7 linked regions of the Homo sapiens genome follow. The protein of the gene in region 3 purifies or fractionates together with the protein of the main gene of each other region. This does not show direct contact. Each region holds a gene or a part of one and is shown on either strand. Other genes may lie near its edges.

What was found.
Region 1: the proteins of RPL14 (region 3) and STAU1 purify together in Homo sapiens (affinity purification with mass spectrometry; 6 studies listed by BioGRID and IntAct, with this or other methods). This does not show direct contact.
Region 2: the proteins of RPL14 (region 3) and MYBBP1A purify together in Homo sapiens (affinity purification with mass spectrometry; 3 studies listed by BioGRID and IntAct, with this or other methods). This does not show direct contact.
Region 4: the proteins of RPL14 (region 3) and FTSJ3 purify together in Homo sapiens (affinity purification with mass spectrometry; 4 studies listed by BioGRID and IntAct, with this or other methods). This does not show direct contact.
Region 5: the proteins of RPL14 (region 3) and CTCF purify together in Homo sapiens (affinity purification with mass spectrometry; 5 studies listed by BioGRID and IntAct, with this or other methods). This does not show direct contact.
Region 6: the proteins of RPL14 (region 3) and RRP8 purify together in Homo sapiens (affinity purification with mass spectrometry; 4 studies listed by BioGRID and IntAct, with this or other methods). This does not show direct contact.
Region 7: the proteins of RPL14 (region 3) and FYTTD1 purify together in Homo sapiens (affinity purification with mass spectrometry; 3 studies listed by BioGRID and IntAct, with this or other methods). This does not show direct contact.

Annotation. Positions count from the first base shown.
Region 1 is NC_000020.11:49,181,264-49,185,701, forward strand, and holds part of STAU1 (double-stranded RNA-binding protein Staufen homolog 1), read right to left. Parts: intron 1-4,438. UniProt on the Homo sapiens protein: Binds double-stranded RNA (regardless of the sequence) and tubulin.
Region 2 is NC_000017.11:4,552,542-4,557,643, forward strand, and holds the start of MYBBP1A (myb-binding protein 1A), read right to left. Parts: upstream 2,844-5,102; 5' UTR 2,784-2,843; coding exon 2,586-2,783; intron 2,416-2,585; coding exon 2,320-2,415; intron 1,738-2,319; coding exon 1,654-1,737; intron 1,553-1,653; coding exon 1,478-1,552; intron 1,377-1,477; coding exon 1,269-1,376; intron 86-1,268; coding exon 1-85. UniProt on the Homo sapiens protein: May activate or repress transcription via interactions with sequence specific DNA-binding proteins. Repression may be mediated at least in part by histone deacetylase activity (HDAC activity).
Region 3 is NC_000003.12:40,459,838-40,464,275, reverse strand, and holds part of RPL14 (large ribosomal subunit protein eL14), read right to left. Parts: intron 2,870-4,438; coding exon 2,770-2,869; intron 2,669-2,769; coding exon 2,615-2,668; intron 2,338-2,614; coding exon 2,044-2,337; 3' UTR 1-2,043. UniProt on the Homo sapiens protein: Component of the large ribosomal subunit. The ribosome is a large ribonucleoprotein complex responsible for the synthesis of proteins in the cell.
Region 4 is NC_000017.11:63,818,933-63,822,736, forward strand, and holds the end of FTSJ3 (pre-rRNA 2'-O-ribose RNA methyltransferase FTSJ3), read right to left. Parts: coding exon of another isoform or gene 3,741-3,804; exon of another isoform or gene 3,657-3,740; intron 3,237-3,656; coding exon 3,052-3,236; intron 2,912-3,051; coding exon 2,791-2,911; intron 2,712-2,790; coding exon 2,422-2,711; intron 2,184-2,421; coding exon 2,098-2,183; intron 2,007-2,097; coding exon 1,907-2,006; intron 1,507-1,906; coding exon 1,323-1,506; intron 1,242-1,322; coding exon 1,147-1,241; intron 1,063-1,146; coding exon 870-1,062; 3' UTR 501-869; downstream 1-500.
Region 5 is NC_000016.10:67,610,703-67,615,140, reverse strand, and holds part of CTCF (transcriptional repressor CTCF), read right to left. Parts: intron 4,318-4,438; 5' UTR 4,309-4,317; coding exon 3,528-4,308; intron 3,191-3,527; coding exon 3,020-3,190; intron 1-3,019.
Region 6 is NC_000011.10:6,597,221-6,601,180, reverse strand, and holds part of RRP8 (ribosomal RNA-processing protein 8), read left to right. Parts: coding exon 1-32; intron 33-125; coding exon 126-255; intron 256-405; coding exon 406-512; intron 513-598; coding exon 599-695; intron 696-915; coding exon 916-1,035; 3' UTR 1,036-3,960.
Region 7 is NC_000003.12:197,769,871-197,774,308, reverse strand, and holds part of FYTTD1 (UAP56-interacting factor), read right to left. Parts: intron 4,178-4,438; coding exon 4,065-4,177; intron 907-4,064; coding exon 810-906; intron 161-809; coding exon 99-160; intron 1-98. UniProt on the Homo sapiens protein: Required for mRNA export from the nucleus to the cytoplasm. Acts as an adapter that uses the DDX39B/UAP56-NFX1 pathway to ensure efficient mRNA export and delivering to the nuclear pore.

The sequences.
Region 1 (4,438 bases), on a different chromosome or scaffold from region 3:
CACCCTGTAATTCTAACCTGGCACATGGTAAGAGCTCAATAGCAGTAAATATTATTATCCAGCAAATTCACTAAACCTGTCCTTACACATAAACATCTATAAAACTTACAGCAACACTCCACTTGTAAAAAATTTTAAATAGGATCAGAGAATATGCTGACTAAAACCAACCCACTCACTGAGCAACCAGTTCTGTAGCTACATCAAGTATAGGGGCAAGGCCGGGAACAGTGGCTCAAGCCTGTAATCCTATCACTTTGCGAGGCTAAGGCAGGCGGATTGCCTGAGCTCAGGAGTTCGAGACCAGCCTAGGCAACATGGCAAAACCCCATCTCTGCTAAAAATACAAAAAATTAGCCGGGCGTGGTGGTGCTCAATTGTAGTCTCAGCTACTCGGGAGGCTAAGGCAGGAGAATTGCTTGAACCCAGGAGGTGGAGGTTGCAGTGAGCCGAGATGATACCTCTGCATTCCAGCCTGGGCAACAGAGCAAGACTATCTCAACAAAAAAAAAAAAAAAAAAAAAAAAAAAAAAAGCAGAGGCAATCTAATGAAGGTTTAACCCTCAGCAATCATGTTCATTCAGGGGAAAAGACCCCAATGTATTTAAATAGATTTTCTTAGCCTTTATTGTCTGGGAGACATGACACAAAATTTCTATCATAATAAAATGGCCAGTTTTGCTTCCATTACTGTTATAAACCCACATAGTCATCACACTTCTTTCCCAAATTAGATTCCAGATTAAACAGATGCCAGATGGGTTACAGATTTGATATTCAGAAGACTAATTTTTAATCGAAAGCAAACACTTTCTCAAATAGATTTTTCCACTTTTGCTTCCAGTAAATATACTTTGAGGGAGTTCCCTGAGTCTACTTCTTTAACAAATAAACATATGTAATCCCAGAAAATATACAGCAATTAACAGCCTGCAGAAATTTTTCTCTACTTCCATTTATCTGGTGACATAAATCACTGTTACATCAACCTTATTCACCAGTATGGGAATGTAAACACTTAAAAAACAAATTAAGCTATTTGCAGTAATTCCCATTTTACCACTTTAAAAATATTACTTTTCTCTGCAGTAAGGTTTTCTAGTTCAGAGCATTAAGCTGTCAACAAGACAGATATCCAAGCCCATCCATCCCGTGGCATTTGATAAGATCAACACAGCTATATATTTATAATCCTATTATCTCCTTAGCAGGTGAGAACAATGGATTTGGCCAACATTATTCAAGCTTCATAATACTGTATGGTAAAATGTTCATGACAAAGAGCAGAAGGTATGCCGGGCACAGTGGCTCACGCCTGTAATCCCAGCACTTCGGGAGGCCGAGGTGGGCGGATCACAAGGTCAGGAGATCGAGACCATTCTAGCTAACACGGTGAAACCCCATCTCTACTAAAAACACAAAAAAATTAGCCAGGCATGGTGGCGGGCACCTGTAGTCCCAGCTACTCGAGAGGCTGAGGCAGGAGAATGGCATGAACCCAGGAGGTGGAGCTTGCAGTGAGCCGAGATCACACCACTGCACTCCAGCCTGGGTAACAGAGCCAGACTCCGTCTCAAAAAAAAAAAAAAAAATAGTAGACGGTGTTCAGCACCATGAAACAGGGAGGCAAAAATAGAAAGTAGATGGTATCTAAAGAGATGTACAATAAAACTTCATAAACTTTGTTATATGTTTGAAATTTTTCATAATAAAATGGTGGGGGTAAATAACCATAGCAACTAACATGTCCTCTCATAGTTCAACTGATAACTGGCAATTTATATTTTTTGGAACAGCACAAATGGTATACAGCCTTGACTCTGGTGAAGTTTTATTTAAAGAAAAGCTCATGTAGAAAATTACACGAGAAGCATTTCAACCACAAATGTCTCCATCACCAGAAGTCAATGTAAAATAACCTGTTATAGGTCTAGTGTGAAACAAATCTGTCATAAAATTCTCTAAACATTTTTGAAAGCTCTAAAATCCCATTCTGAGAGAAAAGCAACTCCAAAGCTCTTATTTGAGAGGGGAGGAATTTATATTTCCTCAAATTGAACAATTCTGTGTCACTGGGTATCACATCAAATAAGAAGATCCAATTTAGAGGCTCATGAAAACAAGGCCTCTGCCTATAATCCCAGCTACTAAGGAGGCTGAGGTGGGAAGATGACTTGAGCTCAGGAGTTCAAGACCAGCCTGGGCGACAAACTCTGGGATTGACTTGTGGAATCCCACAAAAAGATACCCTTTTCATGAAAGTTTCATCTTTATACTGAATTACACTCTTACTCAATCCAGTAAAAAGGCTCAAAGAAAGTTGCCCCACAAACTGAGACTACCTTGTGGTATTGGGGAGAGAGACTGGATGAAGCAGTATCCATTTTGATAACACCCAGAATGATATCAATGATCTGGACTTTAGAATGGGGATGGAGGAGAGTTCCATGAGTCATGGCCATTTCTAAACTTAAAATACAGTAAATCCTCTCTTAACATAAGGGGTAGGTTCTTGGAAACTGAGACTTCCGACTAACACACGCTTATTGATACAAACAAGAGTTAGGTTCTAGGGCATATTTCTCATCAGAAAAATATCACCAAACTTTTAAATAAAGACCAAACACTTCGAATATTAAACACTGAAATAAATGTGAAGTATACATGCCTTTTTTTTTTTTTTGAGAAGTACTTTTGCTCTTGTTGCCCCGGCTGGAGTGCAATGGCACGATAACCGCTCACTGCAACCTCTGCTTCCCAGGTTCAAGCAACTCTCCTGCCTCAGCCTCCTGAGTAGCTGGGATTACAGGTGCCCGCCACCCAGCCCGGCTAATTTTTTTTATTTTTAGTAGAGACAGGGTTTCGCCATGCTGGCCAGGCTGGTCTCCAACTCCTGACCTCAGGTGATCTGCCCACCTCAGCCTCCAAAAGTGCTGGGATTACAGGCATGGGGTTGCAGTAAGCCGAGACTGCACCATTGCACTGCAGCCTGGGTGACAAGAGCTAAACTCCATCTCAAAAAAAAAAATTTTTTTTTTTACCACTTATTCCAGTTCAGGGTTGGGGTGGCTGGAGCCTATCTCAGCAGCTTAGGGTGCAAGGCCGGAACCAGTCCTGGACAGGACATCCACTGCAGAAAGCACTCACACTTACACACACAGCTCCACACACCAGTGAACCTCACGTGCACAGCTTTGGGATGTGGGAGGAAATCAAGAGTACCCAGAGAAAACCCATGCAGGGATAGGGAGAACGTGTAAACTCCACAGACAGTTTTTTTTCTCAACATTATCTTGAAACAACATTATTCAAGGACCTGCTGTAATCTGTATATACATGGACTTTCTGGCTGAAACCTAAAAGAGAGCAACTTATTCTCAAGAAACTATATTTATGGTAACAATTCTCAATGCTTAAAAGTTTTACGTTAAGCTTAATGGGAAGCACTACACATTTTTAAAAATGTGTTGTGTCCTTTCCCAGATACTAAATTGGCGTTTCTTTCCTAAATCAATTTTAAGAGGTGTATCTTTCCCCATCTTCCAGGTAGTCATAACTAAAACATAACATGTAACATTTCCACTGTACCTGATCAAGCTCAAAGTACACCTACAAAACTCAAATAACAGACCTAAAAGCTGAAAACTATTCACGACCAGAAATTTGAAAGTTATGCAACAAAGACATTTATAATATTTATAATATTCCTGTCAACTTCCATTGTAAGAGAGATCCTTTAGACACAAGAAAGAAAAACGTGAACACTTATGCTGTGATTTCATACTATTCACAAAAATTAAGGTTTCATTCATATTTGCTAAATTTGTTATTTGGAAATAGGGCAGACGGGGGCACTTTGGAAAACAATTCTATGTTAGAAGATTATCTTTTGCTTAATTCTTAACCTAAGGTAACAGCAGTATCTTTACACAACTACTGTAAAGAAACATTTTAAGTTTTCATTATGAATTATTAACTGTAGTTTAACTTTGACACAAAGTTATCTCTATTAAAGTGGGTTAAAAGGCAGGTCTCTGCCAAAACAGGACTGGGGAAATCTGTATTTGTTCGCTTTTCAATTATAGTCATTAATAGCTCAAGAATTTTTGCTTTTGTACACAATAAAGCAGCAAGGTTGTATTTTGATTTTGAGGAGCTGAAGGCATTGGATCAAGAGTTAATTTTCTTCTTCTTTTCTGCTGTACAGAAATCATGTATAAACAGAGAAGGGAAGCCCAACAAACAAAAATGAGAACTATTATTCTACTAAAAGTAAATTTTGTGACCTTAATCTGGGGCAATCTGGTAAAAGTCAAAATCGCTAATGTTGTGACACAATGTTTAAGATTTGTTTCAAAATAATCTAGTTTGTGTGGGGGGATACAACATGAAACAAAACCGACCTTGGCTATGAGTTAATAATTGTCAAAGCTAAGTG
Region 2 (5,102 bases), on a different chromosome or scaffold from region 3:
CTAGCTGTTCAGGGGAGCTGAGTATTATATTCAAGTCGGCTTTGAGGACCTCCGGCAGGATCTCCTGCAATGTGGCCTTCGAGACCTAAGGATGGAGGGAGAAGAAATCGTGACTTCCTCTGCGGGGTGAGCCTGGTGGATCCTGTTCTACCTGCTCCTGACACGGGGCCACCTGGTGAGGTATCAGAGTCATCAGAGGCCAGTTGCTAACAAAACTCAAATTCCCAGGCAGCGGGGTTTTTGACAAGCATCCCACTGACGCTAACTGGCCCCTGGAGGTACCTGCCCCCCACCCCTTATTTTTTTTTTTTAAGACAGAGTCTCACTTTGCCACCCAGGCTGAGTATAGTGGTGTGATCTTGGCTCACTGCAACCTCCGCCTCCCAGGTTGAAGCAATTCTCCTGCCTCAGGTGGGATTAAAGGTGTGCGCCATCACACCCAGCTAATTTTTGTATTTTTAGTAGAGATGGGGTTTCACCATGTTGGCCAGGCTGGTCTTGAACTCCTGACCTCAAGTGATCTGCCCACCTCGGCCTCCCAAAGTTCTGGGATTACAGGCGTGAGCCACCATGCCCGGTCAAAGCTACCCTTTTAATTATTCCTTTTTTTGGTATTTCAGAGTACTAGCTCATTTCATACACGAGGAGCCCTAGGTGGAGAGCTGGGATTCGAATTCAGGTCCTTCTGGCTCTGAGGTCAAGACTGCACAGTAAGCCCTGGCCTGGAGACCTGCTACCCCTGCCTTTCTCTTCGGTGACAAAAGGGCCTAGGGTGCTACCTTCCCAAGTAGGGCAGTGGAGGCCCACAAGGGGCCAGCCTTGACCAGGATAACAATGGCAAACGTTTTATATACTTGCCACGTGCCAGGCACAGTTCCAGAGCTGCACTGCCCAATACGGTAGCCACAGCCACACAGGGCTGCTGAGCGCCTGAAAGGTGGCTAATCTGAACAGGGGTGTGCCTAAGTGTAACATACACACTGGATTTTGGAGACACCTGACAAAAAGAGTGTAAGATATCTCAACACTTTTTTATACCAATGCACACTGAAATAATATTTTAGATATACCAGATAAAGTCAAATGTCACTAAATGTTACTAAATGACACCTGTTTCTTTTTACCTTTTCAACAAAGTCACTGAAACGCTTCAAATTATACATCTTTGTATTTCTATGGAACAGTGCTGTTCCAGATTCTCATCCGAGCCCCCTTGATGTCTCTGTAACAAAGTGTTGCCTGGGCCCGCACAGCTGGGGAGCTCATACCTCGGAGAGGATGTCCACCAGGGCCTTCCGGGGCTGCTCCTGCAAGTGGTTTTGGTACTGGGCCAGGGCCTGCAGCAGCTTCACCGACTTCATCAGTGCCTCCTGGTCCTGGTCCCCACAGAGGGACAGAGGGTATGAGCAGGGCACACGACTGTCCCCCACCCATCCCAAGCCAGCCTACATTCCCCCAGTCCCTCCAAAGCTCTTACCTTCACCAGCCGACCTGACTGAAAGAGGGCGAGCACTCCAAACAGGTTTGCAAAGAGAGCAGGTCTCAGCATTGCCTAGAAAAGGATTCCAGGCACAGGCATGAGGGGCCCTGGAACTCCCCATTCCCCAAGCCTCCCACCCCTGGGGCTGCTGACCTCCCTGGCCCCACTCTCACCTTCTTCACCTGATGCAGGTCATATTTTTCTTGTATCTGCTGCAGGATGCTGCACAAGGGGAGGTCTTCAAAAGACTGTAACAGCTGCCAGGAGTTGTGTGGCAGGAGGAAGAGGGTTCAGGAGAGTGGCCCAACTACGTCTTCACAAACCTTAACCTCCCTTCCCCCTTCAACTTCTCCCAAGAAGCCTCAGGTCCCTAGTCCCACCTTCTATGTACCTTCTATGGCCCCTAGATTACTAGTCTGAAATGCTCAGCCACTGGGTCTTCTCTCCGCACGTGGTCTGAGCTCCCCTCAGGCTGATCCTGCAGGCCTGGGTCTTTATTGCTCTGCCCCTTGTCAAGGCGCCTCAGAGAGTGGTCTACTCCAATCAGCTGAATGCCTCTGCAGGCCTAAGGGAGCCCACCCAGCGCTCACTGCTCCCAGAAAGTGTACCTAAGAGGCCGGGCAACCCAAGCACCAAATAGAAAACCTGGCCAGGCCTTGCTCACACCTTCTCCACTTTCATGAAGAGGCCTCCCTCAGGTTGGCCTCCAGTCTGCTCTGCCACTCCCGACCTCTCTCTCGGGCTGCCCCTCCGCCACAGCTGAGACACCACACCCGCCCTCCTCATACCCCACCATTTTGACCTGGATGGCTGGGACCCTGCCAGGAGCACCACCTCACCTGTGCCAGGGCCAAACTGTAGCAGGGCCGGGCTGTTTCTCGCCCGACCCCGAGTCCCGTGATTAGACGCTTCAGGGCATATTTCATCTCGGACCCCTGCGGAACCAAGCACACCCTCGTGTTCAATGGTGACAACAAGGTGCACGCCCCCGCGCACCCTGGCATCCAGGTTCGCGACCACGTGCCCCCAGTCTCAACTCCCTGGGCCCGCCGCCGCTTCCTTGCCGGGATATGCGCAGCCTCTGCCCCAGACCCCGCCACTCCACCTTCGGCCTGCCACGCAGATACTCCAGCAGCTTCTCCGTGGCCGCAAGTCGCGTCTCCTGCTCAGGCTTCGCAATGTCCCAGAAGAAGTCCAAGAACTCGCGACTGTGCTTCAATAGGCCATAGCGGTCGGCAGGCCGGGCGCCACTCTGCGTCGCTTCTCCAGGCGACATCGGCTGGGCGGGATCCCGGCTCTCCATCTCCGCCACACTCACCGAAACACGAAACACGTGTGCTCCGGCCCCAGCCGCTTCCAGGTCAGGGCACGGCGCATGCGCACCGGTTTGTGTCGGCTCGGAGGCGGAAGAACCCGGAGGGGCGGGGGAACCAAGAGAGACCGGCCCAGAGTTAAAAGAGCGGCATTTCCGCCGTAGCTCTGAGCGGAAGTCCCTCGCCTAGCGGCGTCCCATCTTTCCCAGCCTTCTGCTCACACCCGCTCCGCCCTGGCGGCTGTGGCATCTGCCCCTTTGGAGCCCCAGGGGGGCATTTCTAAGGGCCCATCTCGGAAACAAACCTAGGTGTAGCACTTCGATCCGACTCGTCCCAGAGCGGCCCCTGCGCTCCGAACATTGAGCCATTCAACAATTACTGGGCTCCTGCTGGCGTGCCGTGCTAGGCGGTTGGAACAAAGCCTCTGCTCTCGTGGAGGAACACGGAGCCAAATGCATTTAAAAAGATCATAATTATGAAGAGAATTAGGAATGCAAGGGTCAGGAGGAGGCTTTTAAGTGCTGGAACGTGAATACATCACCCGTTAAAAACACGGCTAATTACTATTCAATAGGGTCTCCAATAATGATTTGAGGGGTTGGTCAGGGAAGGCCTCTGTGAGGAAGTGGCATTTGGGATGAGAGCTGAGTGACAAGAAGGGCCCCCCTCCCCCGTACTCCTGCAAGGATCTAAGGGGACGAAATCCCAAGCCTTGCAACTACAGAGACCCAGGGCTGGAGGGGCTGAGGCTGGCGAGAAGCAAGGCTGCATGGGGCCCCGGGCTGGGATTTCATTCTGAGGGTGATGGGAAGTCACTGGTGAGTTTAATGCAGGGGCAAGCCTGGATCCGATTTACATTTTAACAAGATGATGCTGGCTGCTGTGTGGGGGATGGACTGTAGGTCTGCGCAGGTGGAAGCACGGGAAGACCATTTAGAGATAGTGGTGGACTGGACCCAGGGAAAATGAGAACAGGTCAGATTTGGGCTGATGTGGAGCAGGTGGGGTGGGTGATGGAGTTAGATGTCGGGGGAGAGGAAATGAGGGGGATGCCAGGTTTGAGACTGAAATAACTGGGTACATTGTGGTGCCATTACGGAGAAGAATTTTCTTGGGAGTGGGAGGTAAAGGTGGTGGGATCAAACGGTCTATTAAATCAGAGAAGCCTTTTACAATGGCAGGGGAGGGGAACTGCTACTGGTCACCCTCGCTTCTTGGTTTGAGAAGCTGTTTATAGAGGGCTGTGGTCCAGAGAGGACCTAACCCTTGGGGGAGGTCAGGGCTAACCTTCGCCTTGAATTTCCACACGCTCAACTCCAACCCCTTTGTACCCAAGCCCCTGGGGCGCCTTCTCACCCTCTCAGCCGCTTCCCTGCTTTGCTGTCTGTTCTAGAAAGTGAAATGAAAACATTCACCTTGCACATCTGGTGCCCCAGGAGGCAGGAGGTGAGCGGAGCAGGGGGAAGCTGAAAGATACCAACCCAGGCTCTCCCCTCTCTGGTTGTTGGTCACCTGTGCTGCCCATCAGGGAAGCCCTGACTCCAGTTGCTTCAAAAGCTGTTGGAAAATTAACCAAGAAGCAGGAATGGTGCTTGGTTTCCGGGAGACTTGATCTTTATTTTGTACCCAGTCTGGTTGAGGCAGATAGGTAAGGGGTGTCCTGAAGGGAAGGACAGAGATGCCAACAGTACCCTGGGCTCTGCCTGTCCTGCTTCGTGGGGCCCAGGGCCTAGGCAGAGGCTCTGCACTCTTTCCACTGTCCTCCTGAAAGCTGGATCTGAACTCAGTGCTAGCCCCAGGCCCTACTGCTTTTTCGTTATTACCCTGATTTTCTTAGCTGATAAAATAGCTAGAGATTCCATCCGGTGTGGGTGATCTGAAGAATGATTGTTAGCTCTGGATGCCAGAACTCAAGTCTAGGTAACTTAAAAGGCCAGAGGTTGGGGCCTGAGCCAGCAGTGAGCACATAATAAATCCTTTTTTTTTTTTTTTTTTTTAGACAGGGTTTCCCTCTTGTTGCCCAGGTGGGGTTGCAATGGTGCGATCTTGGTTCACTGCAACCTCCACCTCTCGGGTTCAAGTGATTCTCCTGCCTCAGCCTCCCAAGTAGCTGGGATTACAGGTGCCCGCCACCATGCCCAGCTAATTTTTTGTATTTTTAGTAGAGACGGGGTTTCGCCATGTTGCCCAAGCTGGTCTCGAACTCCTAGCCTCAGGTGATCCACCTGCCTTGGCCTCCCAAAGTGCTGGGATTACAGGCATGAGCCACCGCACCCAGCTATTTTTTTATTATTATTATTATTATTTTA
Region 3 (4,438 bases):
TTTAAAATGTATTCCTGGCCAGAAGCGGTGGCTCACGCCTGTAATCCCAGCACTTTGGGAGGCCAAGGCGGACAGATCACCTGAGGTCAGGAGTTCAAGACCAGTCTGGCTGACATGGCAAAACCCCATCTCTAATACAATATTAGAGGGGCATGGTGGTACACGCATTTAACCCCTGCTACTTGGGAGGCTGAGGCAGAACAACTTGAACCTGGGAGGTGGAGGTCGCAGTGAGCTGAGATCGTGCCACTACATTCCAGCCTGGGCAAGAGTAAGGCTCTGTCTCAAAAAAAAAAAAAAAAGTAATCCTGTTTCATGTACAGCTTTGTAGTATTTTTAAATCTATCCAGGATCTTTTACTGCCCCAAATTACCTGTATCTTGTGGTAGAGAGAAACAGAAGTCCAACCTACTATACACAGGATAAGTATCTCTTATCTGAAACACTTAGGACGAGATGTGTTCTGATGTTGGAGTTAAGTGCATATACATGACACTTTGGGGATGGGACCTAGGTCTATACAGGAAATTCATTTATGCTTCATATACATGTACCCTGAAGGTTAACTATTTCTTCCTCAGGGACACTGAATAGTGCTGTGTACCTGTATTTTGACCATAACCCACCATGCGGGTAGGCTAGGGATTTTTAAATTGTAGTGTCATAGCTCAGTTTCAGAGGTTAGAGCTTTTTGGATTAGAAATATGCTCAACCTGCAATTTTTATACTTGCCCTATTTTCCTAGTTTACTTTTTATAAGAAAATTTGCAGGCCGGGCACAGTGGCTCACACCTGTAATTCCAGCACTTTGGGAGGCCAAGGCGGGTGTATCACCTGAGGTCAGGAGCTCGAGACCAGCATGGCCAACATGGTGAAACCCCATCTCCACTAAAAATACAAAAACTAGCCAGACGTGGTGGCACACACCTATAGTCCCAACTACTCAGAAGGCTGAGCAGGAGAACCGCTTGAGCCCAGGAGGCAGAGGTTGCGCTGAGCCAAGATCGTGCCACTGCACTCCAGCCTGGGTGATAAGATCAAGACTCTGTCTCAAAAAAACAAAAAAAGGCCAAGTGCAGTGGCCCATGCCTATAATCCCCCGCTCTGGGAGGCCGAGACAGGCGGATCACGAGGTCAGGAGTTCAAAACCAGCCTGGCCAACATAGTGAAACCCAGTCTCTACAAAAAAAATTAGCTGGGCATGGTGGTGGGCGCCTGTAGTCCCAGCTACCTGGGAAGCCAAGGCAGGAGAATCACTTGAACCCGGAAGGTGGAGGGAGCTGAGATCGCACCACTGCACTCCAGCCTGGGCAACACAGCAAGACTCTGTCTCCAAAAAAAAAAAATAAATAAATAAAATAAATCTGCTAGACTCTTGAGCATCAAGAGGCTGTCACTTTACCTATTTATGGCAAACATATTTGTACAAGGAAAAAAGATGTTCTGAAGCCAAGGTGACCATAAGAAAAAAATGTCACTTGTGTCACTTGGTGTTCTAAGTTATCATGATTTCTCATGACATGATCAATTATGACTGCAATGATTTTGCACTACCTATCCAAGTATGGGCAGAGAGTGAGATTAAAGAACTGATTATTTAGGCCAGGCGCGGCGGCTCATGCCTGCAATCCTAGCACTTTGGGAGGCCGAGGCGGGCGGATCACGAGGTCAGGAGAGCGAGACCATCCTGGCTAACACGGTGAAACCCCGTCTCTACTAAAAATACAAAAAATTAGCCAGGCGCGGTGGCGGGCACCTGTAGTCCCAGCTGCTCAGGAGGCTGAGGCAGGAGAATGGCATGAACCCGGGAGGTGGAACTTACAGTGAGCCGAGATAGCGCCACTGCAGTCCGGCCTGAGCAACAGAACGAGACTCCATCTCAAAAAAAAAAAAAAAAAAAAAGGAACTGATTATTTAATGTTTATTATAATCCTACTATCAATCTGCCTCCTAACTCCAGCCTCAACAGGCTTTAAATCCAAAGGCTTAAATACATTTGTCAACAGGTCAAAAAGAACCTTTATTACTTTTTATGATTGCCACTTATGCTTTCTTGCCAGATGCCTTTGGAGCAGGTGCTTTCTGGGCTGGAGCTTTTTGACCCTTCTGAGCTTTTGGAGCAGGCGCTGCTTTCTGGCCTGTGGCTTTCTGGGCAGGAACCTTCTGGGCTGGAGCCTTTTTACTCGCGGCGGTGATCTTTTTTGCTGGAACTTTAGCAGCAGCAGCAGCAGCAGCAGCAGCAGCAGTACCCTTAGTACCAGGTGCTTTTTTGGGAGAAGCTTTCAGGAGAGCTGCCTTTTGAAGCTTCTTAACTTCATTCTTGATTATTCTGTTCCTCTGAAAATTATCAATGTAAGAAAGCACTTATTGTGTATACATACAATAAAATCCAATTTATGCTGGTTTTAGAAAGGGCATTAAGTAGTCTGTTTCCCTACAACTACATCTGAAGAAAGGTAACAATTCCATAGGGACATCATGAAATACAAATGAAGATAAATTCTCCTTTTTTACAGAAAGCTTCCAAGAAGCTGGCAGCCTGAAATGGGATTTGGCTACTGCTCCCTTATTATTTAAAGCTAAGTTACACAAAAATACAGATCTTAAATCTTACCATTTTCTTTGCCTTCATAACTTTAAAACGATCAAAATCTGTCATCTTGGCTTTCTGTTAAAAAAAAAACAACAAATAAAAATTATCCCTCTCACACTATCTTGAACCCTCCAAAAAAAGAAAGGACCAGAATTCAAATGACCCTAAGTTATTACCCTTTCTCTGGCTTCAATCTTCTTGGCCCATCGTGTGGCTGCCCATTTTGTATTGATGTCTGCCTTCTGCCAGGCTTGTCGGACATACTTCTGGTGGGCACTAGAACGAGCCAAGACCACAGATTAAGAAATCAGCTTTGAAGTCACTCATTATCAAAGACACTTTCTTTGTTCCTTGAAAAGCACTCTTCCTGTTACACAACACCTGGTACACTATGTATTTTACTTATTTTTGTGTTCAGTAAGCCAGAATAGGTTATTAACTTCAAGCATATTTTAATCAAAACTGTAATCCAGTCCCTTTTTTTTTTTGAGAGAGGATCTTGCTTGCCACCCAGGCTGGAATGCAATAGTATGATCATGGCTCACTGTAGCCTCAACCTTCTAGGCTCAAGCCATCCTCCTGCCTCAGCCTCCCAAGTAGCTGGGACTACAGGTGCATACCAGCACACCCAGCTAATTTTTATATTTTTTGTAGAGACAGGGTCTTGCTACGTTGCCCAGGCTGGTCTCCAACTCCTGGGCTCAAGCAACCCTCCACCTTGGCCTCCTGAAGTGCTGGGATTACAGGTATGAGCCACTGCACCCAGCCCAGCCCATTTTATGAATTTAAAAACTACCTCTTGACCAGGCGCAGTGGCTCACACCTGTAATCCCAGCACTTTGGGAGGTCAAGATGGGTGGATCACCTGAGGTCAGGAGTTCAAGACCAGGTTGGCCAACATAGTGAAACCCCATCTCTACTAAAAACACAAAAATTAGCTGGGCGTGGTTGCAGGTGCCTATAATCCCAGCTACTTGGGAGCCTGAGGTTGCAGTGAGTCAAGATTGCGTCACTGCACTCTAGCCTGGGTGACAAAGTGAGACTCCGTGTCAAAAGAAAAAAAAAACCCTCAAAAAAAACACAAAAAACCCACCTCTGACTATATATAATTCCACTCGGGCAGTGGACGTGTTGAAAACCATTCTTTTTTTTTTTCTTTTTTTGAGACAGGGTCTTGCTCTGTAACCCAGGATGGAGAATGCACTGGCGCAACGTTGGCTCACTGTGACCTCTGCTTCCTAGGTTCTAGCAATTCTTCTGTTCCATCCACCCAAATAGCTGGGGCTACAGGAGTACACTACCACACTGGGCTAATTTTTGGACTTTTAGTGGAGACGGGGTTGGCTAGGCTGGTCTCAAATTCCTGACCTCAAGTTATCTACCTGCCTTGGCCTCCCAGAGTGCTGAGATTACAGGTATGAGCCACTGCACACATCCGAGCCATTCATTCTCGTAACAAACAAGGTAATTAATATTAACTGTTAGGCTTTTTTTTAAAAAAAAATTTACAGTAACAATTTGTGGCCAAACATCCTAAAAATAAAATCCAGGGTGTCCAGGGATCCAAGGCAGAATTACAAGAGTACCTAGTGAAAAATCTAAGTTACCAAGTATTTTCTACTGCTTTGAACTTTGACAAGTATCCTCAAGCTTCACCCCTAATTGGTATGTCACAGTAGTAGCAGCATGGCTATGTTCACTCGAGGTTGTTCAAGTGGCATGTTTTCAACTACCAGTACTTCAAAATCCATTATGTGTTAATACACGTCCCACAGTGCCTGTAGTGCTCAGCATACAGTAAGTTTTTTTTTTTTTTTTTTTTTTGAAACGGAGTCTCGCTCTGTC
Region 4 (3,804 bases), on a different chromosome or scaffold from region 3:
AGGTTTGCATCCAGCCCTGAGACATGTAGGAAACACCTTTCAGACCCAGGCTCTGAAGATTCCCAGAAGCCACAAGGATTGAAGGGAAAAGGTGATCCTGGTAACTGTTCCAGGATTGCTCCAGGTTTGAGATGGTATTGCTAAATTTAAAATTAAACAAGAAACCCAACAACAGCTTTTAAAGTGTCTTCTATCTCATTGTATTTTTTTTAACTTGCCCCAATGATAGAAAAGTCTTTTGCTGAAATGATTTTGATGATTTTTGTTTATCGTTTATAAAAAGGAAAAGAAATATACAAACTTTGACTTTTGTGACTTTGTGAAGGTTTCTTTAAGATGTGCATTCCTTTCTGCTTGCTCTCTAGTAAATGTTTTACTACCGGGACCTGTGGATCGTTTGTCATTTCTGTCTATGAATTGGTACATATTAAGAATAGTGCCGCACACAGTGTAGGGACAGATAGGGAAGTGCTTATTAAAACTGTCAGAAAAGACAACTCTTCCATTATCCTGGTTTTATTCAGGAATAGGATGGGGGTGGGGAGGGCTTAAGTGGCCCACACGTCCAGGTGTAGACTGACTACATTGAGTATCGCTCCAACACCGAACTTCCCTTTAACGGTTTAAAAAAAGGGTCATGAGTGTCAACACAGTTCAGCAGTGTTTTCATGGGAGACCTTCAGGCAGGCAGGAGGACATCCTCCTCTCTGCTCAGGACCACCACGGGAGTTCTAGGCACTCCACCTCACTGTTCTTCAGACAGCTGTGATGTGAGCAGGGGCTAGGCCGGTAATCAAGGGGGCCAGACTGAGCCATGCCACACCCTTCCTCCTAGTCCCCATGCTCTCCTGGGAGCCTGGCAGCTCTGCTTACTTCCGTTTGTGTTTTTTCTTTTGTTCCTTACGTTGCTGTGCTCTTTGGTCCTTCTTCATCCTTGAGTCCACCACCTTGAAATGACCTCTGACTCCAGCTGGCCGGCGCACTTTGCGGCCCACACCTTTTTTGGCTACAACGTAGGTGACATGGCGTTTCTCCTTGCCAAGCCCAGCCTTCTTGTAGAGACTACAGGGGGGAAGAGAAGAGGTTAGAGGCTTGCTTTCTGCTGCACTTTTAGCCCTGTGTACCTTTGTGGTGTCCTCCCATTACCTTCGCAGCTGTGCCACTTTCTCTCGTTCTGAGATGTCCACTGTGTTCACCACGGCTTCTGCCTTCTTCCTGGTCTGCTCCAGCCTCTTCAGCATCTGCAAAGGAACCTGTCAGGTGACCTCTTCCCCATCCCCCCACCCCCACCCCACCCAATCTCTGGAGGCCCCATCACTTACCCTCCTTTTCTTTCTAGCCTTAGCCTCAGCCACCTTCTTGATGGGACGTGCATTGATTTCCCGCCAGCGTTTCCGGTAATGCTCCACCTCCTTCTTACCAACAGGCAACTGTCGTATCCGGTGCTGCTTTTCCTCTTGCACAAACCACTCCGGAAGCTCCCCCTCATCCTCATTAAATGTGTACCTGAGTGGAAAGGACATCTGTCTAATATCCAACATTCCAGGCTTTCTAAAGAAATTACCAGACTGGGCACGGTGGCTCACGCCTGTAATCCCTGCACTTTGGGAGGCTGAGGTGGGCAGATCACCTGAGGTCAGGAGTTTGACCAGCCTGGCCAACATGGTGAAACCCCATCTCTACTAAAAATACAAAAATTAGCTGGGCGTGGTGGTTGGCACCTGTAATCCCAGCTACTCAGAAGGCTGACTCAAGCGATTCAAGGAGAATCAGGCTGCAGTGAGCCAAGATCGTGCCATTGCACTCCAGCCTGGGCAACAGAGCGAGACTCCATCTCAAAAACAAAAAATTACCCATTTACCCACCAGACCCTGGGTCACTCTTGATGAGTTTATGGCCCCTTTACCGGTTGAAGGAGTTATCTATGAGGTCTCTCTTGGCCTTTTTGGAAGAGGCAATAACAGCACCTAGAGCAAGGCCTTCGGGGTCCAGTATCCGATGTTTCGCTAGAGAGGGAAGGAGAAAGGTCAAAGCTCAATTCCCAATACTGAGACTTCCAGTGGTCTTTTCTCATTCCACTGCATACAGAGCTCTCACCTGGGTCCTCAATAGGCACTATCTCAAACCCGTCATCATCTGACTTAGGCCCACGGCTTCGCTTCTTACCACGGAGGGGTTCCCAGCTGTGAAGAGGGGAGGACTCTGAGTGATTCCACCACTCTGTACTACTCAGACCGCACTCCCACGGAATTTGCAAAAATCCTGCCATGCAGGCTGTACCCCAGACCAGTTAAATCAGGATCGTCAGTACAGTATTTTTAACCCTCCCCATGTGCAGCCAAGATTAAGAACCCCCAATTTAGAGAAATGGTTCAAGCCACCGCTTCCTTTCCATCCCTTCTCTCAGCTGCAACTACTCACCTCTCTTCTTCCTCACTGCTAGTACTGCTATCACTGTCTGAGATGCCATCCTTTTCTTCCCCTTCAAGGCCAGTGGCAGCTTCTGTCCCCGAAGAAGCCTCTGTTCCCTTAGGGGCTTCATCTTGGTACAGGGGAGACATTATCTCAGTCTTCAAACAGGAAGGGGGTGTCTGTGGCAGCTGCTGCTTCTGCTGCTGCTGCCGTCCCTTCCGCCGGTTCTCAAATAACAGCTGGGCCTGACTGATCTCCAGGGCCTCATCGGCATCGTCCTCGATCCCAGCAAAGCTGCCCTGTGATAGGAGAACATCAGCTGCCCTTCTCCCAAGGAAGACTCATCTCCCCGCAGTCTTGCCCCCGGCCTCTCCTTACCTTTGAGAACCACAGGTTGGCTTGTTCTTCCTGCAGTACTGCCTTTTCCTCCAGTGGTACCAGCAGTGGATTCTCCTCCTCCTCCTCCTCTTTATCATCTTGCACTTCAGTAAGTCGCATACTGTAGACCCAAAGGAAAGTAGGGGGCTCAGAGACCCAGATTGCCTGGAGCCCTTGCTGCCCTACTCAGGCTCTGGTAGTACCCACCCTAACACTTCCTCAGAGTGGCAGCATTCCCTTTGGTGCACACGTGCCCCTTACCGCTTTTGGTCCCTTAGACCCTGATGTCCCCTGACTCCTGCCAGCTCCTCTGGATCCAGGTCACTATCCAGAGATGTGTCATCACCGTCGTCCTCAACATCTGACACATAGATATCATCCCTTGGCAGATCGGACAGAAATGTGTCTGCTGCACTCATATCCCCTTGTGTTACTTCCTCTAATAACTGAAGTGTAACAGAAACAAAGGTAAACTATTTAAAAGGAAATATACTGTTTTTTTTTCTGTGTCCCTCACCTCAGTCTATGCTCAGCAACACTAGAAAGAACACTGGCAAATCCATTATCCTTTCACAGATGGGAAAGCTCAGATCCAGGGTAGTGAATGGCCTGTTTACAACATCCCGTTCTAGGCTGGGTTACTGATCTATCCCACTCAGCTGTCTTGTCTCAGTGGTATCACAAATAGGTCTTAAGGAAGGTACCTACAGCCCACATAGCACCAAATCTTAACATATTCTACAACACTGGTTTTCCTTTAAAAATTATTCTCAGACAGCATCTCAATCATCTCCTGAGAATACCGTCTACACAGTTTGTTTCCACTGAATAAAAGGGGCCCAGCCAACATACATCCAACAAAACTGTTCCACTTAAACCAATTGTCAGAACCTTTTATTTTCCTCATGGTAAAGATACTAGGCTGGGTATGGTGGCTCACACCTGTAATCTCAGCATTTTGGGAGGCTGAGGCAGGAGGATTGCTTGATGCCAGGAGTTTGAGGCTGCAGTGAG
Region 5 (4,438 bases), on a different chromosome or scaffold from region 3:
ACGGAGTCTCTTGCTCTGTCGCCCAGGTTGTAGTGCAGTAGCATGATTTTGGCTCACTGCAACCTCTACCTTCCAGGTTGAAGTAATTCTCTTGCCTCAGCCTCCTGAGTAGCTGGGACTACAGGTACATGCCACCACACCTGGCTAACATTTTTTTTTTCTATTTTCAGTAGAGACGGGGTTTCACCATGTTGGCCAGGATGGTCTCGATCTCCTGCCCTTGTGATCCGCCTGCTTCAGCCTCCCGAAGTGCTGGGATTACAGGCATGGGCCACCATGCCTGGCTTTTTCTTGAGACCGAGTTTTGCTCTTGTTGCCCAGGCTGGAGTGCAATGGCACGATCTCAGCTCACCGCAACCTCCGCCTCCTGGGTTTAAGTGATTCTCCTGCCTCAGCCTCCCGAGTAGTTGGGATTACAGGCATGTGCCACCACACCCGGCTAATTTTGTATTTTTAATAGAGACAGGATTTCCCCATGTTGGTCAGGCTAGTCTTGAACTCCTGACCTCAGGTGATCTGCCCGCGTCAGCCTCCCAAAGTGCCAAAGTGCTGGGATTACAGGCGTAAGCCACCACACCCGGCCACCTGGCTAATTTTTGTATTTTTAGTGGAGATGAGGTTTCATCATGTTGGCCAGACTGGTCTCAAACCCCTGACCTCAAGTGATCCACCCGCCTCAGCCTCCCTAGGTGCAGGGATTACAGGTGTGAGCCACCATGCCCAGCCATCAAGGCTCATCCTCACCAAGTTAGCTTTCAATTGCTACAACATCTTTTTTTTTTTTTTTTTTTTTTGAGATGGAGTCTCACTCTGTCGCCCAGGCTGGAGTGCAATGGTGCGATCTCCACTCACTGCAATTTCTGCTTCCTGGATTTAAGCAATTCTCCTGCCTCAGCCTTCCGAGTAGCTGGGACTACAGGCATGCGTCACCACGCCCGGCTAATTTTTATATTTTTAGTAGAGACGAGGTTTCGTCATGTTAGCCAGGCTGGTCTTGAACTCCTGACCTCAGGTGATCCACCCACCTCGGCCTCCCAAAGTGATGGGATTACAGGCGAGAGCTACGGCGCCCGGCTGCTACAGCATCGTAACAGAGGCAAAGGCGCCCCCTAGAATGCAATGCAACTGCATCTGGAACATGAAAAGGTATACTCCTCACCATAAACTGATACTCTTGGTGTATGCATCTGCTCTTATGGGTTTTGTTGGTATGAATCAGTCTTGCCAAATCTGCTGAGTAACCAGATAGACTGTACCTCTTACTTTCAAAGCTGAAGACCAGATAGAGAATGCCCACACCAAGGCACACCCATCTTGGGAAGTCCTGTTATGGGGCCATTTATTTATTTATTTATTTATTTTGGTGAGGCAGAGTCTTGCTCTGTCACTTAGGTTGGAGTACGGTGGCACAATCTTGGCTTACTGCAACCTCTGTCTCCCGCATTCAAGTGATTCTCCTGCCTCAGCCACCCAAGTAGCTGGGTTTACAGGCGTGTGCCACTACACCCAGCTGATTTTTTGTATTTTCAGTACAGAGGCGGTTTTGCCATGTTGGCCGGGCTGGTCTAGAACTCCTGGCCTCAGGTCATCTACCCCCCATTGGATTTCCAAAGTGCTGGGATTACCCAGTTACTTTTATTTAGTCATATGCCCCATCCTAGTGTCTTCAAAGTATCAAATAAAACATATTATCAAGTGTCTGAGTAGAAATTAGGGAGATGTTTAAAAGTAAGTCACATTAGTGAAGAATGTGCCCATGTGCAGCATACTGTTTATGATTAACACCCACTTGATCATGGTCATCTGACAACCAGCACAACAAATCTAAAACAAGGGTTGTCATTAGAAATTTTTAAAAACCTAAAAATCAAAAACAAGAGTTGTCATATGAAATGAAGTTATTCTGCATGAAAAACCATGTGAGAAGACTTGCAACCAACTTCCTACACTGGGATAACAAATAGCTCAGGAAAGCTTAAAGAGAGGTTTAGTGCACAGAGTCCCTCTACTTTAGAGACCTCAGGGAACCTGGCCACAGCCAACATGAAGCTAATATCAGAATATCTGAACACTAAAGTAAGTAGGATGCTCAAATAAATGTTTGAATTATCAGAATGGTGCCTTAGCTTTTCCATTCTGAAATTATGAATTATCTTCCTTGACGTGAAACAACCAGAAACAAAAAATGTTAAGGTTTGTTTTTGAGATGGAGTCTCACTCTGTCGCCCAGGCTGGAGTGCAGTAGCACTATCTCAGCTCATTGCAGTGTCTGCCTCCCAGGTTTCAAGCGATTCTCCTGCCTGAGCCTCCTGAGTAGCTGGGATTACAGGCACCCGCCACCACACCTGGCTAATTTATGTATTTCTAGTACAGATGGATGTGATTTTGTCACGTTGGCCAGGCTGGTCTCCAACTTCTAATCTCAAGTGATCTGCCCACCTCAGCCTCCCAGAGTGTTAGGATTACAGGCGTGAGCCACTGTACCCGGCCACTTTTTTTTTTTTAAATAAAGGTAGGATTTCACTTCTATTTCTTTTCTTTTCTTTTTTTTTAGACGGAGACTCGCACTGTCGCCCAGGCTGGAGTGCAGTGGTGGGATCTCGGCTAACTGCAAGCTCCACCTCCCGGGTTCACGCCATTCTCCTGCCTCAGCCTCCCGAGTAGCTGGGACTACAGGCGCCCACCACCACACCCAGCTAATTTTTTGTATTTTTAGTAGAGACAGGGTTTCACTGGGATTTCACTTCTATTTCTAACATTCTTCCTCATAGTACCAGGCATCTATTGCCTGAGACTTCTTTTTTTTAAGAGAGAGGGTGTTATTTTTCATTAAATTTTCTTTACATTTGTCTATAATAACTAAGTCCAAGTGCTTACAATAAAATCATGATTACAAAAAGGGCATCATAAGAAATAATAAAAACTTCCTTTAAATTCCCGCTGGAGTCAGCTTGAATGAATACTAAAAAGCGAAGTCTGAGCATTTGCTGTTGTAGCCCCCAACATTCTTATCCAGCACCTGTGTGTGTGTTAAGGTGATTCCTCAGGAGGGTGACTGTTCTGAATGCCCTGCCACAGAGATGGCACTTGTGTGGTCTCTCATCAGTGTGGCTTTTCATGTGACGATCCAAATTTGAACGCCGTGGACACGTGTAACTGCAAAGCTCACACTGGAATGTCTTCTTTACACCTATGTGCAAAATAAAACACTTACTTGCTGCAGAGTTTCAAAGTGTTAAGATTAATCCTAATCTTAAATTTCTACAAATATATTTGATTAGCTTTTAATAACAAAACCCAATATAAGTCATAATTATCTCATGTCACTAATACATTTCCTTCTTCTTTGGGATTAAAAAAAGAGCATTCAATCTGGAAAAAACTTATTTTAGACTGGTTTTAAAGAACGGTACCCACATAACGACCTTTTACAAATACGGTTAATATAAAACAACTTGCATATGCACTGTGTTGTATGCTTATCCCAAAATGGTTTTATGAAACCACTATGGATAAACTCGTTTTACCTTTCTTTTTAATTTTTGTTGGCTTTGGAGGCTTCATATTACCAACCACTTTCTCTGCATTAACCTCTGATAGCAGACCCTCCTGCTGTTCTTCCTCAAAATCGTAGACAGACACATCTACATCTTTGCCCTCCTCTGTATAACGCAGTTTGCTCTTTTTGGTTTTCTTTGTTTTTTTGGCTGGTGGCTGATAGTCTGGGTCTTTTTGCCAACTAGGATCTTCCTGGGGTGGAAGTTCCCCTTGTTCTAGTGTCTCCACCTCTCCATTGGCCCCCACTTTAACCACCTGAAACCCTTCAGGCAAAGGTAGGGTGTGGCATATCATGGGTTCACTTTCCGCAAGGCCCTCTTTAGACACTTCATTTTCATAAGCCCCCTGAAGTTCTTCTACTGAAGTGGTAGCAACAGGTACAGTCACAGGAACAGGTACTTGAACAAGCTGAAGTTCTCCTATGTTTATGGGCTGTTCCTCCATATTTACAACCTGTAAAGTTATAATCTGGGTATCGTCCACAGCAGCCTCTGCTTCTGGAGCCACTGTGCCCTCCATTACTTCAGTCTTCATCTGAAGAAGGGTGGGGTCCAGCTGTTCCATCATCACCATCTGTACACTGCTGTTGACATCCTGGACCACCTCACCCCCATCCGTCTGGTTCTGGGGTAAGTGGCAGGCATCTTCTTCCTGGCCCCCTTCCCGGCGTCTCTGGTAAGTCTTTCTCTCCTTTCCTTTAATAAAAGTTTCGGACTCCTCCACAATGGCTTCGACTGCATCACCTTCCATTTCCCCTGCCTTTATTAAGGGAGAACACAGATTGTTATTTAAAGCAAAGCATGTCTAAATAAAAATATACATTTTAAAACAAAAAGACCCTTTGGTGAATGAATTAGGCATCAATGGTTGTTAATATTAA
Region 6 (3,960 bases), on a different chromosome or scaffold from region 3:
GTGGACCGCATCGCCAGGGATCTTCGCCAGCGGTGAATGGGGGTCAGGGACTGTGAGAAGCCATGTGGTGGGTCAGTCATAGGCTCAGATCAGACCAATATGTGACCCTTGCCTTCCACTCTCAGGCCTGCATCCCTAGTGGTGGCTGACTTCGGCTGTGGGGATTGCCGCTTGGCTTCAAGTATCCGGAACCCTGTGCATTGCTTTGACTTGGCTTCTCTGGACCCTAGGGTCACTGTGTGTGACATGGCCCAGGTAAACCCCTATGTTATCTGGCTTGTGCTCTAGGGCCAACCTCCGTATGCTAATCTCTAACCCTTCCTTCCCCTTTCCCATCCTGGTATCTCAGTGCTGGCTTTCTTCTTCTGCACTGTGTGCCTTATACAACACTCTCACTCTCCACAGGTTCCTCTGGAGGATGAGTCTGTGGATGTGGCTGTGTTTTGCCTTTCACTGATGGGAACCAACATCAGGGACTTCCTAGAGGAGGCAAATAGAGTACTGAAGCCAGGGTAAGAGCCCCCAGGACACAGATGCATGTATGTATGTGTGCATGCATGAGTCTGTGCACTTACACAGAACTTTCTGTCTTTCTCAGGGGTCTCCTGAAAGTGGCTGAGGTCAGCAGCCGCTTTGAGGATGTTCGAACCTTTCTGCGGGCTGTGACCAAGCTAGGCTTCAAGATTGTCTCCAAGGTGAGGGCCCCAAGACATCTGTACCTGTTTTTGTCTCATGTGGCCCTATTCAGGGTACTGGTGTTCAGGAAGGAGGCTTTAGGCACAGGAACAGACATTTTGCTCCCCAACGGAAGTGGGAGCCCTGGGAAGCTTTGTGAGCAGAGGCAGTACATAGAGGGAGGTGTTTTAAGGAGTTGGGATGAGGATTTGGTTCTCACTGGGTCTTTTCTGCCCCTAGGACCTGACCAACAGCCATTTCTTCTTGTTTGATTTCCAAAAGACTGGGCCCCCTCTGGTAGGGCCCAAGGCTCAGCTTTCAGGCCTGCAGCTTCAGCCATGTCTCTACAAGCGCAGGTGACCTCTGGATCTTCCTTGAAAGGGGAGGCAGATCTCAAACTCCAGGCTCAGAACTGTGAAGACTGTTTCCAGCCTGGCTGTGAGCCAAGACCTGGTTCCTGGTGGACCCTGAGGACAAAGTGTGATAAAACCTCTGGCTCAGACTTGCTCTACTGAAGGCTTCTTGGTTATAAGATGCATAAAGTCACTGGGGCTAGCTAAACAATAAAGAGTTTATTGTGAGAACATGGGGATATCTGTCTCATGACACTTCAGGTGTTATGAAAACTAGATGGTTTGGAATTCAAGGCATCTTTAGGTTTTGCTCTTCTTTCCAACTAAGAAGCCACATGGCCTTCCTGTCCTGCCATCTCCACTCTGCTGTCATCTGATCTGTCTACAGATCAGCTTCCTCTGCTCACCCATAGCTTCTGCTCCTTCAGCTTCAGTTTGCCCAGGCCTTCAAGGTTGCAGACAGGCAGCTGTTGCTGTTTGACTCTGAGGCAACTGGTTGTCCACCAACATCTTGGCTCAAGACATCAGTCTGAGCCACCAACTTGAGACTGTTTGGTTGTCCCCATACCGAGCATTTCTAGTGGTTTATCTTTCCCCTCTCCCCTCATCTCCATTTTTGGAACCATATAGCATCAAGCCACTCCCAACACCTATTGTCCTGTGGGACTTTGGGATGTATATAGCTGAGAGCACAGATTTTGGAATCAGGTAGACCTGGATTTAATTCTTGGCCTGCTACCCAGAGGCACTTAAAGTCATTTAATCTCTGTATATCACATTCCTCATTTGGAAAATGGTAGAATTTTTGTCTTGCAGGGTGGTTGTGTGGGTTAACTGGAGAAATCTGTAGCCAGGGCTGGGAACATAGGAGGTGCTCAGTAAACTAGCTATGACTATTATGTGTTGTAAGCCTTATTGTTTTTTGAAGATCTTCCCTAGGCTGGTTGGAGGCTGAGGGGTAAAGAATGGATTTGTTGACTAAGGAAGCCTCTGGGAGAGGCTAGACCTTTCAACAGGCCTGCTTCATAGGCTATTTAATGACTTTTAATAGATTCTGAGCTTCTGTCCTTGGAGGGGTAGTGAGGGAGCTGGGTCTCTGTTCATAAACAACTTGTTGATGCCATGTGGGCTTGGGGGCATTGGGCTGTTCATTGGCGGAAGAGTCTGTCCACTATCTCTGCCTTGCAGTGGACTCAGATCAGCATGTCCTGGGAAAGCTATAGGCAAGGTGCTGAGGGAAGGTGAGTTTGAATGATAGATTCTAGGCCTCCCCCAAAAGGTATCTGCCATGTGCCCAGGTATAAAGATATGGCCTCTTGTACTTGTTTCCAGGAATACCTGACAGTACCCATTGGGAGATCATAGGTTCTATGCCCTGAGCCAGTTGGATGCCTCTAATAAGGGGATGGAGGTTTTGAAACAGGCTGTAGTCCAGAGGGCATGTTTGGAGGCTGGGCTGTGAATCATTAGGCAGGCACTACACAGTGCCTCTACACGTACTGTTCTTTCTGCTGGATATTCATCGGACTGGCAGTTTGCTCATCTTTCCGAACAGCCTAGTTGTTTCCTATTCTACTCCCAAAGCAAAATCAGTTCTTCATCTGTACTCTCAAAGTACTATGTGAAGAGTGCTACTTCAGCTTCTAAATATTGCATTGTGATTCCTTTGTGCATTTGGCTGCTGTTTTCTCAAGCCATGTTTATCTTTGTATTCCCGGAGCTTGTCATTTGAGATATAGCCAGTGTACTTATTCACCTAGGGAGAGATAAGGAATGACAGGGTCCAGTTGAGTGGGATAGATGAGAACAGGGGTGTTATAGAAACCCAGGTACTAGGGCACAAGATGAGGGCACTGTTGACTAGTCATGATGGAAGAAGTAGGCAGACAGGAGAACTTCATTAGGTAGAATTGGTGGGATGTTGAGGTTGGTAAGAGAGGAATCTGAAGTAAGTTCCAGGTTGCTCAACTGTGGGTAGGCTGGTGATGCCATTCAAAGTGTTGGATTTTAGGAAGTGGGACATGCGTGAAATCTGTGCTGGGGGTCTGGGAATCAGCAGCCTAGAGGTGGTAATTAAAGTCAGAATAGATGAGATATTCAGGGTAAGATAATGAGAAGAGAAAATGGCTCAGAATAGAACTGAGGAGCATGTCATGGATGGGTAAAGGAAAATGAAGCAGTGAAGGTGATGGAAGAGGAGAAGGTTCACCCAGAGATGTAGGAGTAAAACCAGGAGAGTTAATTTTTTTTTTTTTTTTTTTTTAAGACAGAGTCTTGCTCTGTGGCCCAGGCTGGAATGCGGTGGCGTGATCTCAGGTCACTGAAACCTCTGCCTGCTGGTTCAAGCACTTCTCCTGCCTCAGACTCCCGAGTAGCTGGGAATACAGGCACATGCCACCACGCCCAGCTAATTTTTGTATTTTTAGTAGTGACGGGGTTTCACCATGTTGGCCAGGCTGGTCTCGAACTCCTGACCTCGAGTGATCGGCCTGCCTCGGCCTCCCAAAGTGCTGGGATTACAGGCATGAGCCACTGTGCCCAGCCAGTGTTTTTTTTTTTTTTTTTTTTATGGGAGGATGGGCAGGTTGTTAGCTGTCGAGTGCTATTGAGATGAGAGAGAACTCAGAATGCAGTGGGGTAAGGATTGCTGAGTAATGTGGAGGGCCTGTTTGAGGTAAATGGCAGTGGTAAGAGGTTGCTCCATTATGAAAGCCCTCTTCCAGAGTTCCTGATAGGGCCCCAGAAGTTCATTTCTGATTGCTTTGATTTTTTTTCAGGGGAGCAGGAAGCCAGTTTATCATTTGAGAGTGAGAATAGGGGAGAGGAAATATCTTCCAGGCCCACAGTGCATAGAAATACCCAGTCAGGGCAAAATGATTTATCTGTTTACCTCTCCTCATCACTTGGGCCCAGAGCAATCAGCAGTGATTAG
Region 7 (4,438 bases), about 160 Mb from region 3:
TTCAATTAATTTCTTCTGGACTGAGGTACATGATAATTTGGGTAGTTAGTATTCTGGGAGTTTTGAAATAACATCTTAAAAAACAAATGGAAACTTACTGACGAGTTCTCTTTGCTACTACATCGTCTAGCAGTTGTTCTGTATTCAACTGGGCCTGCACCTGAAGGGAAAAAAAAAGCAGTAGGTACCACAGAAAGCAGAGGATTTGAATCCAAAGAGCGATCCTGCTCTGGAACTTCCTAACCCAGTGGTGCGTGTACATGAGTGCAGCGGAGGTGCCTGCGCTATTCTACAACTTCCTAACCCAGTGGGGCGTGTGCGTGAGTGCAGCGGAGGGGCCCGCGCTATTCTAGAAATTCCTAACCCAGTGGGGCGTGTGCGTGAGTGCTGCGGAGGGGCCCGCGCTATTCTAGAACTTCCTAACCCAGTGGGGCGTGTGCGTGAGTGCAGCGGAGGGGCCCGTGCTATTCTAGAACTTCCTAACCCAGTGGGGTGTGTGCGTGAGTGCAGCAGAGGGGCCCACGCTATTCTGGCAACAGTTCCCTGTTGGAATTCCTACATGAGAACGAGTGGCAAATACAGGTTTATTCCCAAATAACGAGTTAAATTCTTATAAGACATTGCTATTGAGGGTAAGAAAAGATGGGAAATAAAAAACATACAACAGGAAGAACTAATCTACTACCACGTGCCTCACATCCTGAACCCAATGCTGCCTATGACTGAGGCTTACTAAAGGTGGCTGCTCAGGATCCTCTTTGGGAAAAAACAAACAAACAAACAAAAACACTGCCAAAGTTTTTAAATACCTTCAGGCCTCTTCTGAAAAGAAAAGTTGCCTGACGAGTATCTTTCTGATGATTTAATTTATTTCCACTCCTGGTAAAATTAGCTGGAATGTTATTTCTGCAACAAAAACACATAGGCCATGCTAAGCCATTTAACTACTTTCAAACATCTTGAGGAAAAATAAGCAAAAATAGTTAAATTCATAGGCTGCAAACATGAGGTGCAAGAAACAAACAACTCTGAATTATTTGCTTATTAACATGAAGCTACTGAGATTTGATTAACAAATACCTCCCTCCGAAGCATAGCACATAACCACGTGTTAATTTCAAACCACTTTATCTTCCAAATATTCAATCCTCTAATATCCCATATATCTTCTGAAGACATTAATAATCACATTTTTAGTGCTATTTCCTATATTTGGTGAAAACATAACTTTACAATTTATAGGATTAGTACAAAGAAAAACCACACATAGGCCAAACTGAAGACGTAAAATAAACTGAAGACCAAAAATAAAGAGAAAGGTTTGAAAAATAACATCTCCTCCTCCAGCTTTCTCTTCCTTCCTCACTCAGAAACCATTATGTATTAACATAAACCATAGAGGCCAGGCATTATGGCTCACACCTGTAATCCCAGCACTTTGGGAGGTTGAGGTGAGTGGATCACTTGAGGTCAGGAGTTTGAGACCAGCCTGGGTAACATGGTAAAACCCCGTCTCTACTAAAAACACAAAAATTAGCCAGCCTTGGTGGCACACGCCTGTAGTCCCAGCTACTCAGGAGGCTGAAGCATGAGAATTGCTTCAATCAGGGAAGCAGAGGTTGCTGTGGGCCGAGATCACGCCACTGCACTCCAGCCCAGCGACACAGACTTCATCTCAAAAAATATACAAACCACAGAAAAACTTATACTCTTCTATTTCTTGTTCTTTCATGCACAGAACAATGCTCTTAATTATGACTGTCACCAATTCTTTTTTTTAATTTTAAGTTCTGAGACACGTGCTGAACGTGCAAGTTTCTTATGTAGCTATACATGTGCCATGGTGGTTTGCGGCACCTAATTTCTTTTGTTTTCTATAGGAAGTTAGTGAAGTACGAAAAATTAAAATTTCATATTTATCTATGAAATATTCAATCCTCTAACATTCCATGTCTTCAACTGATGTATTGATAAATATGAAACACTATATAAACGAGTGTTTAACAGATTCCCTAGTCTTACCTCCAATCTTTCAGAGATTCAAGTTCAAAACTGCCCTAGCTAACCCAATTAACATGTAAGTCTCACGTAAATGATGGGTTCTTATTTGAGAAGGTCCCCTTTCACAAAAGGTACTATCAAGTGATTCCCAAAAGATGATGGTTAAAACTGCAATTCCAGCCATTCCATTTTTTGTTTTTTTATTTTTATTTTTTTGAGACAGAGTCTCACTGTCACCCAGGCTGGAGTGCAGTGGCACCATCTTGACTCACTGCAACTTCCGCCCCCCAGGTTTAAGCGATTCTCCTGCCTCAGCCTCCCAAATAGCTGGAACTACAGGCATGAACCACCACGTCCAGCTAATTTTTGTATTTTTAGTAGAGATGGGGTTTCACCATGTTGGCCAGGCTGGTCTCGAACTCCTGGCCTCAGGTGATCCACACGCAGCGGCCTCCCAAAGTGCTGGGATTGCTGGCATGCACCGGTCACCACATCGGGCTAATTTTTGCATTTTTTTTTTTTTTTTTTTTTGAGACGGAGTCTCGCTCTGTCGCCCAGGCTGGAGTGCAGTGGCGGGATCTCGGCTCACTGCAAGCTCCGCCTCCCGGGTTCACGCCATTCTCCTGCCTCAGCCTCCCAAGTAGCTGGGACTACAGGCGCCCGCCACCACGCCCGGCTAATTTTTTGTATTTTTAGTAGAGACGGGGTTTCACCGTTTTTAGCCGGGATGGTCTCGATCTCCTGACCTCGTGATCCGCCCGCCTCGGCCTCCCAAAGTGCTGGGATTACAGGCGTGAGCCACCGCACCCGGCCTAATTTTTGCATTTTCAGTAGAGATGGGGTTTTGCCACATAACTCCTGACCTCAGGTGATCTGCCTGCTTTAGCCCCCCAAAGTGCTGGGAATACAGGCATGAGCCACTGTGCCCAGCCACTGCATTTTTTAAAAACCTCATTCCAGGTTTTTTTTGCTGACTTATCTTCCACGAAAGATAAATAAATAATACTTGAAACTGAATAAGGAAACTTCACACCTCATCAACTTCATCTACTTTGTCCTTACAGAGAACAGAATGCCATAACAACAGATCATAATTTTTCTTTTCTTTCTTTTTCAGAGATGGGGGTCTCACTATGTTGCCCAGCAGGTTAGCCCTGAATCCTGGGCTCATGTGATCCTCCTGCCTCAGCCTCGTAAGTAGCTGGGACCACAGGCACATGCCACTGCACCCAGCTCACAGGCCATAATTTTTGGTTTTTATTATTCAATTTAGTATAAAAATAATTTCAGTTTAACAAGTGTTCATGAAGAATTCTCCCTTTCTAGTTTGATTTTTCCACAAATAACATACATTGTGATTCAGTGTTCTAGTAAGAGCCATCCAGACTGAGTAACAAATTGAGATTTCAGAATTCTCAATTTTGAATAATTCCCACTAAGATGTTAAGAGTTCTACCAGGGCTGGGCACAGGGGCGCATGCCCGTAATCCCAGCACTTTAGGAGGCTGAGGTGGGAGGATCACTTGAGGCCAGGAATTGAGACCAGCCTGGACAACATGGTGAGACCCTGTCTCTATTAAAAAAAAAAAAAAATTAGCAGGGCATGGTGGCATGTATCTGCAGTCCCAGCTACTCAGGAGGCTGATGTGGGAGGATCGCTTGAGCCCAGGGCAGGCCAAGGCTCCAGGGAGCAGTGATGGCGCCACTGCACTCCAGCCTCAGCAACAGATCGAGAAGCCCTGTCTCAAAAAACAGGGAGAAAAAAAAGAGAGTTCTACTAAAGTGATCAGCTTTTGCAATTTTATTCCATATGTCAAAGAGGTAAAGAAGCAGAGTGATGCTTTTTAAAAAGCTTATATCGGTTAACTTCATCAGTAAGAATTCATCTAATAAACAAGCTATTACTGGATACATCCATGTGGATGTTCAGATAGACATCCCAAATATCTGTCTTGAAAATGACCAGATAACTAAAAAAATCACTGCAAATCCATTCTTCACACCACTTAATGCAGGAAGTGTTTTTAATGCAAAATAACACATTATTATTTTTGAGCACTTACTTTCTGCTTAGCTGGCTAGGTCTCTTGAGAACTGCTACTGGTTTCCTCTGCCCTTCATTTTGTCTCAGAAGGTTTGCCTTCCTTTTTAACACTGGAAAATATTGTTCTATATTCTATCAGAAGGCAAGAAATTATGTTAATCAAATTGCATTTTTCTATATACTCTACTACAATAAACATTTCAGATGCAGAATGAACAAGGATTGACAACTGCTTGAATGTGCAGATAAGGGAGACGGAGAAACAAACAACTTGAAACTGTACAGTCTACATGACTGAAAAGATGAAAACCCCACATTATATTTAAAATATGTGAGGTACTCGGGGGACCCACAGGTGATGGGGAATCGTGGCTCTGGAACTCAAGAGAATCA